Linked DNA regions of Homo sapiens: all the other regions are reported to be linked to region 1. The links are microRNA targets in miRTarBase. Many come from high-throughput screens and were not tested one by one. Region 1 holds a microRNA gene; each other region holds the end of a gene's coding sequence.

Region 1 (5,462 bases):
TATCTTATTCTCCAAATAAGATAGACAAATGGAAAATAAACATATGAAAAGATGCTCAAGGCCGAGTAAGGTGGCTCACACCTGTAATCCCAGCACTTTGGGACGCTGAGGTGGGCAGATCATTTGAGGTCAGGAGTTCAAGACCAGCCTGACCAACATGGTGAAACCCCGTCTCTACTAAAAATACAAAAATCAGCCAGGTGTGGTGGCAGGCGCCTATAATCCCAGCTACTCAGAAGGCTGAGGTATGATAATCGCTTGAACCCGGGAGGCGGAGGTGGCAGTCAGCCAAGATGGCACTATGGCACTCCAGCTTGGGTGACAGAGTGAGGCTCTGTCTCAAAAAAAAAAAAAAAAAAAAAAAAAAAGATGCTCAAAATCACTAATCGTTAGGGAAACACATTTCAAAACCACAATGAGATGCCACTTCACACCCATTAGGATGGCTACTATTAAAAATGAAACCAAACCAGAAAATAACTGTTGGCGAGGATGAGGAGAAATTGGAACCCTCGTGCCTTGCTGGTGGAAACGCAGAATGGTGCAGCCACTGTGGAAAATGGTCTGTCCATTCCTCAAAAAACTAAAAATAGAGTTACCAGATGACCCAGTAACTCCACCTTCAAAAGAATTGAAAATGGGATGTCACAGAGGTATTTACTTGTACATCTATATTCACAGCAGCATTCTTCACAATAGTCAAAAGGTGAAACTGACCCAAATGTCCACTGATGGATGAATGGGTAAACAAAATATGGTATGCACATACAATGGAATATTATTCAGCCTTTAAAAAGGTATGAGATTCTAATACATGCTACATACTTTCAAGAATGAACCTTGAAAACAGTGTGCTAAGTGAAATATGCCAGATACAAAAGGATGTATGATTTTGCTTATATGAGGTTCCTAGAATAGTGGAATTCATAGAGACAGAAAGTAGAATAGTGGTTACCCGGGCTAGGAGGAGTGGGGAATGGAGAGTTATTCTTTAATGGTTATGGAGTTTCAGTCTGGGTTGATGAAAAAGTTCTAGAGATGGATCATAATGATGGTTGGACAACAATGTAAATGTACTTAGTGCCACTGAATTGTACCTTTAAAAATGATTAAAATGGTAAATTGTGTGCTATGTATATTTTACCACAATATAAAAAGGCATAGACATACACACCTTCACTCAGCTGCAGTAGCCAAATTTCAAGTACTCAATACTCATATGTGGCTAATGGCTATTGGATAACACTGGCCTAAAATAGAAGATTTTGGAGGTGACATATATTTGGTGGGACCATAAGCATAATTTGGTTTTGATAGATAGCTTAAGAATATCAGCTTCCTTCTTCTAGTCAACAATAAAAGAATGGGAAACAGTAAGAGCACAATGCACAGAGTTTGGTTCTGAGCACCAATGTGCACTCACTCTCAAACTGGGAGCCTCCTGCGGGCAGGGCTGGTGCCTGTGTTATTCCATGTGATGTGGGCAGGTGATGTAACCCCTGGACATAGGCTTTGCCTTCCTAAGAGGGCCTGATGCTTTCCAGATGAGATTCCACATCTTCTTACGTTGCGGTGGAGAAAACCAGCTTCTGAACCTGGAAGCATCACCTTCCCGTGCCCGGCGCAGAACAGCTCCTGGAAGCCAAACACCTCTAGAAGGGGAGGGAGCAGCATGAGGAAGGTAAGAGAGACAGGGTCCTGCTCGGAAGGCTCCAGTTAGGTGGTGATGGGGACTCACTGCTGGGCAAGGGGCACCAGAATAAAGATGGGGATCAGTTCTCCCCTAACTCACGTACTTCCTGCAGAGAAATCAGCCTGCAACGCAGGATCCAGGCGAACAGAGGAGGGTGATAGCAAGCCCTCCAGTGGGGCAGAGGGAGGAGGTCTGCACTAAACATCAGTGAAACCACAAAGAACCAAGCATGGTGACTGGGAGTAGAACTAACCCGGATGCCAGGGGGCGAGTGGAGGAAGAGAGTTCTGTCCGCAGGGGGAGCTGCCCAGAGCTGCGACGAAATTTGCTGAGGTCATGCCCAAAGTCAATAAATAGGGATGTGAAGAGGATTCCATTTCATGATGTGTTAAAAAATTTCTTTAAATCTATATTTGACAATATTTCATGTTTTTAAGTCTTCAAATAGAAGCTAAGCCAGGAAAATCTGAACTCTGAGGATGTGGAATGGCCAGAAAGTAAGCCCTGTGCCTCGCAGGTGGGCACTAGTGGTCCTCAGCCAGGAAGTGGCTCTTGTGAGATTATTATTGAAAAGGTGCAGTAAAAAAAACCCAAAAACAAACAAACAAAAAACTTTTTTGAAAAACACAAGCAAATATGTTCCCCCTACAAATACTCCAAATAACGAAGGAGACCCATGTCCAGACACACACATGCTAGAATGGTAAACACCTGTGTCAGGATTAAATGACACCTTGTAAGATGTTCATGGTCCCCAACAGGAAGGGACTCAATAATTGTGTTTCAATGATGTCTAAATGTATGCTTCTGTCTTTCATATCCAATCCTTGGGTGAAGTCCAGGGGCCACTGCCAAGGAAGTGGGTGCTTAGGGGAAAAGAGAAGAGCTGAACTGGCAGGAGGGTCAATTGGAAAGTTGGAGAACTGCACAGAACAAGGGCTCTCAAAACCTTGATTTCCCTTAATGAAACCACCCACAGTGGCACCATCGTCAAAACAGCTGTGAAGAACTTGGAGGCTCTGTCCTCCTCTCAGCAGATTCATCAGCAGGAAGGACTTAGGCCAGGAGGAAGGGAGCTGGGTCCAGGAAAGGAGGGCTGTTCCTGCAGGCCAAGTCCCCATCAAGGCCACCAGAGCGTGCTTCCAAGTACTGCAGCTTAAGCAACGCCCCCCTGAACTACTGGAGGAATCCAACTCTAGGACCGCTACTTATAACTAAAGACAAGATACTAGCACAAGGCCACTCTGCTGTCCATGGAGAAATACCACCAAGCAGACAAAACATGTTACTGCTGTGCTCAGGCTCTGCCTGCACCGCTGGGCACAGGGCTGGGGTGTCAGTCACGCAGGAATGCAGAAAGCAGGAGGACTCACCAGAAAGGTGGGTCAAAAAGGAGATGTACACAGGCAGGAGGCCGAGCAAGGCACCCATCCATGGAAAACGTGGCGTAAAGATTTGGGGTTATTATGGTTGGTGGTGGGGGCTGGTGAGCAGATCTAATATCTGCACCTCGAGAACACACCATCCCTTCCAGCCAGGGTGCACAGCAAGCAGCTGGCACAGAGCCCCCCTTCCCCCACTCCATTCATGCCCCTGAAGCGGCAACTTAATTTTCTTTAAAGGGAGATTGGGGAGGGAATGGAGAGACGAAGAGAAGACAAATAGCTGGAGAAAGATAAATACCTAAGTAAGTTCCAGGAAAACACACACAGAGGAAACACACCAATGCTGAAACCGCAATGATCCAGAAGAAGCTAGTGTTTGGTTACCATTTGCTTCAGCATCCCAATTTCCCTGATCATCTTTTGTTTTTTTCTTTCTTTTTCTTTTTCTATTTTTGAGACAGGTCTTGCTTTCTAGCTAGGCTGGAGTAGTCATGCGATCATAGATCATTGCAGCCTTGAACTCCTGGGCTCAAGAAATCTTCCCTTCCCAGCCTTACAAGTAGCTGGGACTATAGGCATGTACCCCTATGCCCAGCAACTTTATTTTCTGTAGACATGAGGTCTCATAATGTTTCCCAGGCTGGTCTTGAACACCTGGCTTCAAGTGATCCTCCCACCTCAGCCTCCCAAAGTCATTGATCATCTTGACGTATTTCCTCTCATTAGCTTGTCATTTTCCAGCAGGATATTCTGCGGTCCAGTTTCCCTGTTCTGCTCTCAAATGACTGACAGGGGGCCGACACCCTCAGGAGTCACCTCCATGCAGATGGGGCACTGGAGCACTGCTCTGTACCTCCCAGCAGAGGTGGTGGAATGAGGAGGATGTGAGTATCCACCTTTTTTAGTACAGGCTCCACGAAAATAAACCATACCACCAAATAAATGGTTTAATTTTATTTCAAAATTGTACAAAATGGCCATAAGCGGCTATAAAAAATTTGTCTTCAGAACATGTGGAAATTCAGAAACAACAAAACAGGTATCATTCACAGTGTAATGGAAAAGCTTTTTCTGAGGCAGGAATTATAACTCTTCCTTCTTTTTCCCTAGTCTTTCATGGTCTCCCTCCCGGAGGGCTCGAATATAATTGGTAAATCCCAATTCCTGCAGGGAAGTGGGAGAGAGAGAGAGAGAAAGAGCTTTAATCCCTGAGCTGGCTGTGCACTCTCTCTCCCCACACCCCCAGCCCCTCCAGGGGGTCACTCCTATGACAGGGAGAGGTGGGCAGACTTCTGCAAGGTGGAGAGGGTCTGCGTGGCTTGCACCAGCCCCGACCAGCAAGTGAGAAAACCCTCGGCATCTGGAGTCCAGCCTGCCTCTGGGGACAGGACATCTGTGGCAACCCCTTGGGACTCTCCTCCAACAATGTCAAGCCTCAGCCAGGCCCAGGGCCTGGGCCTCTCGGTGCAGTGTTCCAGCTGACTTCTGCAGTTTCTGGGATGCTGCCCAGTGCTGCCCCTCCTCAGTGGAAGTTTCCCTGCCCATCAGCAGAGAGAGAGCTCTGGGCAGACGCCTCTCCCCCACTTACTGTGCGGTCGCTGTCATACTTTTCTGCGAACTTCCCATAGTGGTAGTAGTGGAAAGTGGGGTAGCCCTTGACCGCCTCCTGCTGGCACAGGTCTTGGTTCTTGTCTTTGACACAGTCAACAGCGGCACAGGCAATCTAGGAGCCAAGGTAAAGAGAGTTGGCACAGGGTGTCCCCAGGCTGAGGCCTGGACCCCACAACACAGATTGCACATCTAGTCCACGTCACAGGCCCACTCTGATTTTTCTCCTCAGTGGCAGGTAGGAACTGAACCAAAGCACCCCCAGCTCAGGACTCCTTGGAGACTGATGGTGCTTGTTTTCAATTTCCAGATGGGTAAGGTTAGGGGACTCGGCCTGGAGTGCCTTTAGACTGTCCTTTAAAATCAAGAGTATGATGATCGTAAAGGAAATGATGACTTGAAAGCATTTGTAAACACCACAGGTTCTGTGGTGCTATCTGTAAGGGACTGTAGGATTTAATCATTTCTCCACTAATATTTCCGGAACATTAGCTTGGGGGGACAGTATAGTGCCAAGGTTAAGGGCAAGAGCTTTCAAGTCAAGTTCCCCAAGTGCACTCTTGGTTTGCCTGGACAGTAAGACTTAAGGAAAATAACTCAGCCTCTTGGTGCCTCATTTTTTTCAGCTGTAAAATGGGGATAATAATAGTATCTAGGCTATCAGGATATTGTGAAGACTGAATAAGAGAATTCCAGTGAGGCCAGTGAGCACAGAACCTGGCACCAGATTCATGGTCAGGAAATGTCAGCTGCTATTACAGTCACTTCTTCCAACC
Region 2 (4,168 bases), not on the chromosome of region 1:
AGGGCCAAACTTACAACAAGCACATAAATACTTTGAGGTTGATGCAAAAGTGTGTATAGCTGTGTGGTTCATGAAAGGGGTGACAGGAAAAGCTGTAACCAGACCCAGGGACATGAGCCAGTTCTACATTTTGCAGAACTGCTTTTTTCACAGAGGCTTTTGAGGGGCCCCAGAAAGAGAATGGAAGTAATGGGGCCAAGTTCCTGCACTGGAGGGCAGGGCCTTTCCTCGAGTGTTTTGTTTTAATGAAGCAGCTGGAAGGGTTGCTTATCTCCGGCTGATAGATGTGTATTTCAGCATGACAGGAAAGAGGAGGCTCATTCATAAACAGGCCTGGCCCTCTGGGGTTTCCCACATTGAAGGAGGGGATGCTGCTTACAAGAAGTTTATGAAGTTTATGCTCTGACTTTTCAAAGTAAATGCAGTGTTTTTTATTGGAGAGCCCTGATCGCTTTTCCCTACCTAGAGCCATTTTTTGAGGGTTGCACTGAGGCCGGTTTTGCCGAAGAGAAGACTAACTCTAGGGCCTTTTGCACTGTTAAATGCAAACCATGTGTGTGACTTGAGGTTTCCTTCCTCTCCAAAGCACTGCACATTTGGCACGATGAATGGCTTTAGCTAAAATGCAGTGGGGTGTGTAATGAAAAGTGGGATGCTTAAAGTGTTAGGAGATACTCACACTGCACCCCACAGGGAACCTCAGTGGGGAAGAGAGGCCATTCGCTGGCAACTGCAGTCCCCATGTGCAAACAGCTAAACCCCTTCCCCAAAAGGTTTTTCCAATAGCAGCTATCCCCCACCCCGGTTTCTCAGGTAATTTATCTGTTTGGCACACAAGGCTCTCTCTACTGTAGCTAGGACAAAGTCTATATTTCACTCCTGTTTTTAACAAGTGCATTCAGAACAAGGCTCCCAAACTTCCAGGGTTCTCTTAACTACAATTGAAAGGTCACACCCTCCAAATCCTACAGTGTCTTTATGAGAGAAGATGGACAGTGTTTCCTGAATACAGGTGCTGGTCAGTTGCCAGCTCACACAGACCAAGTGGTGGTGATTTCATCAAAGGTTGTGGACCCTGAAATCCAGGGACTTTGTCATCAACTCTCAGGGGTCTTAGCCACTAGAGCTGCCTGTCAGTCAGCTGTCTTCTTTTTCCCATTCATGATGCTTTAAAAATAAAACAACAAATAGCAAAACCTTATTTTAGAAGGTATTCCAGCCATCTAGGACCTAGTCTAGTTGCTTCTGCCCTGGTTGAGAAAAATATCAGTTAAAATGGCAAATGCGGAATAAATGATCTTTTCAGGAATGCACATACATAATATGCGTCTTTCTCTGACTCTGCCTTTTCTTTATTAACTGCAGGGGAGACAGCAGGAAGGCAGCAAGTCCCCACCTCCCCGCCAGCCTCGGAAAACAGCAGTGCTGCCCACAGCATCGGCAGCACGCAGAGCACGCCTTGCTCCAGCAGCAGCACGGCCTAGCCCAACCCAGCCCAACCCGGCCCAACCCAGCCCAGCCCAGCTCAGCTCAGCTACTGCCAAGGGCAGGACCAATGGCTGAGCCTCGTGTCCAGACTCAGAGGGCTGGATTTTGGTTCCCTTGTAAAGACAGAGTGAATTTCAGTATAAAGATCACCCGTTGTATTCACCCCACACCCAGGGCTAGTATAAACATGACCCTGGGCTTCTGTACCACACTAGAATTCATGTGAGAAAGCTAAAATGGTGGTCTTCTCCACCAGCCCCTCACAGGCTTGGGGGTTTTCAATGTGAAACACATGCCAGTTTTTAAAATGCTGCTTTGTCCAGGTGAGAACATCCATAATTTGGGGCCCTGAGTTTTACCCAGACTCAAGGAGTTGGTAAAGGGTTAATAGCCAGATAGTAGAACCAGTGAGGAGATGCGGCCAAAGATTCTTTATATCTGAACCAAGATGTAAAACAAGAAATGCTTTGAGGCTTTCTAAGCGATCCTCCTGTCTAATTTGCACCTTTGTCTGGATGCACACTTCTGACCTTGCTGCCACAACCTGTGGGGTCTGATGTGTCCCTTGATGGGTGCTGCCCTCAGGGACTGCACCCTGACAAGTGTTAAGGCAACATTCCTTTCTTGTGCCCTGGGCCAAAACCAATGCTGATGACCTTATCAGCTTCCTGTTTCTTCCCATACTTGCATACACCACTGCAAAATGTCTTAATGCAAATTTTGTATTTCTTACAGGCCTACAGAAATTGAAAATGACCAAAATCAGGAACCACAGATTTGTGCCCATTCCTAATATTTTGTTCTGCAAATTAATGTATAATTTGAGGTGAAATTCAGTTATAAAGTCAAGGACGAATTTGCACAGTGATATATTTCTATGTGTATGCAAGTACAAGTATATAATATGTCACCTGGCACATTCATTTTCTCAGTTGAAGAAGAGAAAATTTGAAAATGTCCTTATGCTTTTAGAGTTGCAACTTAAGTATATTTGGTAGGGTGAGTGTTTCCACTCAAAATATGTCAACTTAAAAAAAAATAGGCCCTTTCATAAAAACCAAACTGTAGCAAGATGCAAATGCATGGCAAATCCTGTCGGTCTCCAGTTGGTTATCTGAATAGTGTCACCAATTCCACCAAGACAGTGCTGAGATTGGAAAAGGGCACTCATTTGGATTGCCTTACTTCTCTTGCCTTAAATATATCCCATATATTTAATATGTCAAAAAGGGCTTGAGGTGAATTTCATTAAATGGAATAATATGATGCCACTTTGCAGCTAAAATAAGCTCAGTGATACCTCCTTGTTAAAAAAAAAAAAAAAAAAAAAGAATGCCAGGGGGGAATTATCATGCTAAATTATTTTACTGCTGAAGATAGCTTCATTGCAAATTATTCTTTTTCCAGAATTTCCCCCAAACAACTTAGAATTCCATAAGTAGAACAAGATAGATTCTACCCCCAAAATATTCATAAGCAAATCCCACTGCCCTTAAAATAAGGAAGTTATGCCTGGTTGTCTGTGAATGGAACCTCAGTAGGTAATCCTGATGAAGCTTAAAACCTTAGGGCAGTGTCTACATGGGAAACAAGTATGTGGAAATTGACAATCATTTTTACCAAATCGTTGAGTAATAATATGACTTACCTGATAGATATACACATTCAATAAGGAACATTTTTTTTTTTCAATAAGGAACATTTTAACTAAAACATTACTTTAGGGCTGAGATTTCCAGGCTATCTACATTGATCTACTGAAAAATTTCTAGATTTCCATATACAAACGAAGAAGACATGAGTTTAGAGAATTTTTTTCCTTTAATTTTTTTTTAACAGAAGGGTATCAGAGTGGAGGACCTAGATTACGCTACCTGTGTTTGAAAATATTGCGCTTTGCCTAACCTTCGGTGGAATGTATTGTTTCAGCATATTCTATGTATAAAAAAGTTTAAAGATGTCTTCAAAGAAGACTAGAGTCTTTAAGTCACTTATAGCTATATTTTACTACAAAATTTGTGTATAAAGATATATTTAAGTGTTTTAGATAAATTTAAGTTACTCCATATGAAATGTTTAATTTCAGCTACTGTGAATTCTTTCGATCAGTCCTTTGCTTTTTTAAAAAATCTTTTCCATCGTGTTAAAAAGAAAATTAGCTATTAGGAGATATTAAAAGATTGATGTCTTAGAAGGACAGGGTTAAAACCTTCTGTAATATATTTAAATATATATTTTTAAGAGAGATGCTACATTGCCAATGATTTTATAAATAATTTAAAATTAATTTACAAATTTATAGATGCAAACCAAAAGATCTTTTTAAAAGAGAGAGAGAGGAAAAAAATCACCTTTTATTTGTTTGGGTCTCATTGTCAGAATTATTATTCAGATCAAGAAATCTGTGTCGATAAAACCTAATCTCATATTGGAGAGTGAATGTCGTTAAGTATTTCTGAAATGTTTCTAAAAAATGAACATGAAAAAAATAAGGTATTTTCTCCCTAGCTTCTCATTACAGTATTTCTAATTGCTTCACACTTTACAGTTTTAATACAAAGTACAAGCTCTACTTTTATAACGTGTACTACAAGTTTCTTTAAAAGTATTGTTGTATTTCAGCTGAACTCTTGTATCTGCAGTCTTTTGTTATTTCTGCAGGCTACACCCTTAATTTGCA
Region 3 (4,168 bases), not on the chromosome of region 1:
TGAGGGTCTCTGGGCATTCTTGCCCCCCACTGTGCAGTGGCGATAGTGGAATCTGACCTGCCATCCCTGAAGTGGCTACTGTGAGGGTCAAATGATATGAAAATACTGTGCCTCTCTTAGTGCTTTACGGTGTAAGCTCTGCTTCCACGGTGCCCGCTGCTGTAGCAGCAGTTGCGGGAGATGATAACGATTTTACTACAAGCTTCTGACAAGCCCAGAACATGCGTGTTTGTGCATTTCTTTTTTACCATGCCCCACACAGCGCTATATGAAATTAAGGCTTAGTAAATACTATATGATGATAAAGGATACTCAATACATAGAAAAATTAGGAAGATTTTGTTTGGACCTTTCCTAGTCAACGAGGAGTTGACGTCTTTACAACATCCTCTCAACTTCATTTAGTTTGTGCTTATAGTCAGCCATCTTATAAACATTTTAATAATTTTGCTTTTAAAAAATAACAGCATTGTTTTTTTTGAGACAGGGTCTCACTCTGTCACCCAGGCTGGAGTGCAGTGGCACAATCTTGGCTCACTGCAGCCTCGACCTCTTGGGCTCAAGTGATCCTCCCACCTTAGCCTCCCAAGTAGCTGGGTCCACAGGTGCCCACCACCACACCTGGCTAAATTTTTGTTAAATTTTTGTAGAGACAGGGTTTCACCATGTTTTCCAGGTTGGTCTTGAACTCCTGGGCTCAAGCTATCCATCCACCTCGGCCTCCCAAAGTGCTAGGATTATAGGCGTGAGCCACCACACCTGGCCCAGATAACATTTTTGAATACGTATTATGCTCAAAGCCCTTTACACGTATTTACTTGCTTAAATCCTCACTTATGAATCCTACAAAACCCTATGAAGTTGGGACTATTATTATCCCCGTTTTACAGATGGGGAAACTGAACCACAAGAAATTAAGATGACACAGCTAGTAAGCGGCAGAGATGAGATTCAAATCCAACAGAACCCCAGTCTCTTAACCACTGCTCTGCTGCCTTCATAAGCATCTTCCAGACTGCTTTGGAAAGTAACCTAGGAGAGTTATTCTTATATCCTTTCCTCTACTGGATTTGATAAAGCGTTAGGAGGGAGGAAAGGTGAATACATCACCAAAGCTCAGCTGAGAAGTGACAGAATTAGAAAACAATATGGAGGACCCCCAGGCTCCTGTAGCAGTCCTCACATTGGCTCCATTTGGGGCACAGAGTTATTGAGAAAGTAGTTGCCAGCAAGCAGCAGGTCAAGTCATGGAGCCCCGGAGGCCATTGCTGTCTGTCGTATTCTAGCTTTGATTCCTCCCATGTACACAGGGACCCCCTGGTTCTTTCGACTTCCTGCTACTTATGCTGGCTGACATCCGCAATGACATCACTGAGCTGCAGGAAAAGGTGTTCGGGCACCGGACTCACTCTTCAGCAGAGGAGTTCCCTTTACCTCAGGAATTTCCCAGCTACCCAGAAGCCATGGACCTGGGCTCTGGAGATGACCATCCAAGAAGAACTGAGACAAGAGACTTGAGAGCCCCCAGAGACTTCTACCCATAGCACATCCCAACACCGTCACGCCAAAGGAAGAGAAAGATCAACTCACCTGCAGTTAAACCATCTAAAGAGAAGAAAGACCACTGGAGACCTAGAAAACATACATTTTTCTCTTCTCTTCTCCTGACGTCTCTCCACTCCTCTTCTTCCAAATACGATGCTATTTTCAGAGTCCCCTCCTAGGCCTGCAGACATGAGGGAGTGAATGATTGATTTACCTGCTTCTCACTAAGAGTCCATTGGGGTGGTTTGCATTGTAACTTTTCTTTTACATCCTATTTTTCCAGGAACTTTGGATTTAAGTACTCTCACAGTGTCTTAAATCATAAATTCTTGAAGTTAAATTTGGCAGAGTATCAAAAGGGGGAAAATGACAAAGTGAGCTCTAAGAAAATGTGAGGCTACTTCTAAGATGTGTGTTCACAATAGACCATAACTCCTCTAGTATCAAAATTGGGGCTCTTCAGTTAAAAAGGGGTGGGGAGGACAAACGTGTCGATGTGCTTTGGTGGAGAATTTTTTCCTTGTGCTTCTAGTAGACTTTAAATATTGTATCCCTTTGTCAAACCTTGTTTCCCAAATTCAATTAAAGAGAGGAGAGAATTGAATGGCGTTTAGAGAAGATAGAAAAGAATCACAGTCATATATTTACTGTTATATAGATTGCCACATTCTAAAATTCAAATACGGTGCTTAAGGTTTCATGCCATGCTTATCTGTAAGTATCCTATTTAGGGAAGAAGATTAAACTCTCTTTTCAAAAAAACAAAGTGAAATGCCTGGATTCACATTAAAACAATGGGCTCTCGTTTGCTATAATATTTTAAAGCTGTTTAATCAACAGTGGAGTCTGCTCTATAAATATAGATTATTTGTTCAATAAACTGGCTGAGCTTAGAGAGAGGTGCAGAATTCCTGGTTCTGAGCAGGTGCCCAGAAGGTACCATTAGGTGCCATGATCCAGGCTGAACCAATATACAGTGGGGCTGAAGTCTGCAAGGAGGTTGCTGGCTTGGGCTGACCTCACTAATGCCATCAGCAGCGGTAGGTAAATTTTTTCTCCTTGGGTATTACAAGTTTTTGTCTGGAGCCAACCAAGCTTGCCACCAACATATTGAGAGTAATACACTATTGAAAGTTATCTTGGATGGGGAGAAAAAAAAATAGTGGTTTTCCTTGTTTGCAAAAACTTCCTTCCTATTCTCATTTTTTCTTAATTTTCTTTAATTTAGTCCAAGTTCCAGTTCTTTTAGGCCTTCTCTTTGATTTATTTTCCCCTGCATGTGAGAAGCAGTTCAGAAAAAGGTCTATATCTCCACCTCCTAGTGAGTTAGAGTGTTTTCTCAGAGCACCTCTGGGTGGCAAAGGGAAGCATGTTCCTGCCAAGGTTTGCTGTGGATTCAGAAGCACCAGGAGCAAGAGACCAGAAGGATGATCTGCTCCTTTGTAACGTTGTTGAGGGCCCTCTTGTTTCCAATGAGCAGCTTATAGGTTACTCACAGTCCACTTTCTCACTGGACACACAAAGTGGCTCTTTATCTACCTTTGCGGGAGATTTTCACTCTCCTGCAAATGATCGTTCTCACACTCATATTAGCTCATGTTGGAATTTCCCATCCTGCCATGTCCTTTCCCATTTCTTTTTGGCTTTTTTGCCTCCACCTTTTAGCCCACATCATTTAACTCCACTACTGTGAAAGCTTGCTTAAAGAAAATCCCTCTTGGCCGGGTGTGGTAGCCCACGCCTCTAATCCCAGCACTTTGGGAGGCTGAGGCGGGGAGATCACAAGGTCAGGAGATCGAGACCAGCCTGACCAACATGGTGAAACCCTGTCTCTACTAAAAATACAAAAATTAGCTGGGCGTGTTGGCACACACCTGTAATCCCAGCTACTCAGGAGGCTGAGGCAGGAGAATTACTTTAACCTGCGGGGGGAGCCTAGATTGCGCTACTGCACTCCAGCCTAGGCAACAGAGGGAGACTCTGTCTCATTAAAAAAAAAAAAAAAAAAAAAAAAAGGCCGGGCTTGGTGGCTCATGCCTGTAATCCCAGCACTTTGGGAGGCCGAGGCGGGCGGATCACGAGGTCAGGAGATCGAGACCACAGTGAAACCCTGTCTCTACTAAAAACACAAAAAATTAGTCGGGCGTGGTGGTGGGCGCCTGTGGTCCCAGCTGCTCGGGAGGCTGAGGCAGGAGAATGGCGTGAACCTGGGAGGCGGAGCTTGCGCTGAGCCGAGATCGTGCCACTGCACTCCAGCCTGGGCGACAGAGCGAGACTCTGTCTCAAAAAAAAAAAAATATCCCTTTTGTTGTGTTTGAATGCCACCTTTCAGTCTTCTTCCTTAAGAATGTTAGGAAGGGGCTTTGCAAACCTCTAGTGGCAACAGTCTTCCTTCCCTTCTTCCTACCACGTTGGAAATGCAGGACTCATGTCAGTCAGCATGTGACCGAGTCTTTCATGAACACTTTGCTCCTCTATGTCTCATTTATGCAAAATTCCTGGTGACTCTCCACTAACATTTTTAAAGTGAAAGCAAACTTTCACTTTAAAAAAAGTGAGCGAGAGGATCCCTTGAGCCCAGGAGTTCAAGGCCAGTCTGGGCAACATAGCAAGACCCCATCCC

The links. The annotated mature microRNA hsa-miR-7110-3p reads UCUCUCUCCCACUUCCCUGCAG and lies in region 1 at 4,243-4,264, opposite strand. An mRNA with a match to its seed (bases 2 to 7 or 8) in the 3' UTR can be bound and repressed. Matches are read on the target gene's strand: a 7mer-m8 pairs with bases 2 to 8, a 7mer-A1 pairs with bases 2 to 7 and ends in A, and an 8mer does both.
Region 2: miRTarBase lists TGFBR3 as a target of hsa-miR-7110-3p. Seed matches in the 3' UTR shown: 7mer-A1 at 3,729-3,735, 7mer-A1 at 3,816-3,822, 8mer at 3,817-3,824, 8mer at 3,819-3,826 and 7mer-m8 at 3,821-3,827.
Region 3: miRTarBase lists CCBE1 as a target of hsa-miR-7110-3p. Seed matches in the 3' UTR shown: 7mer-A1 at 2,438-2,444 and 7mer-m8 at 2,439-2,445.

The regions. Positions count from the first base shown.
Region 1 is chr3:123,160,660-123,166,121 of GRCh38, reverse strand. MIR7110 (microRNA 7110) reads right to left here and starts at 4,328; the gene lies at 4,243-4,328. PDIA5 (protein disulfide isomerase family A member 5) reads right to left here. Exons shown (of 17, transcript NM_006810.4): 16 at 4,667-4,801; 17 at 4,018-4,242. The coding sequence ends at 4,162.
Region 2 is chr1:91,681,055-91,685,222 of GRCh38, reverse strand. It overlaps TGFBR3 (transforming growth factor beta receptor 3), which reads left to right. Exons shown (of 17, transcript NM_003243.5): 17 at 1,366-4,168. The coding sequence ends at 1,484. Among named protein-coding and RNA genes, the nearest start is that of CDC7, 180 kb to the right of the region's middle. RefSeq lists enhancers at 405-484, 964-1,467.
Region 3 is chr18:59,433,284-59,437,451 of GRCh38, reverse strand. CCBE1 (collagen and calcium binding EGF domains 1) reads left to right here. Exons shown (of 11, transcript NM_133459.4): 11 at 1,311-4,168. The coding sequence ends at 1,544. Among named protein-coding and RNA genes, the nearest start is that of LMAN1, 76 kb to the right of the region's middle.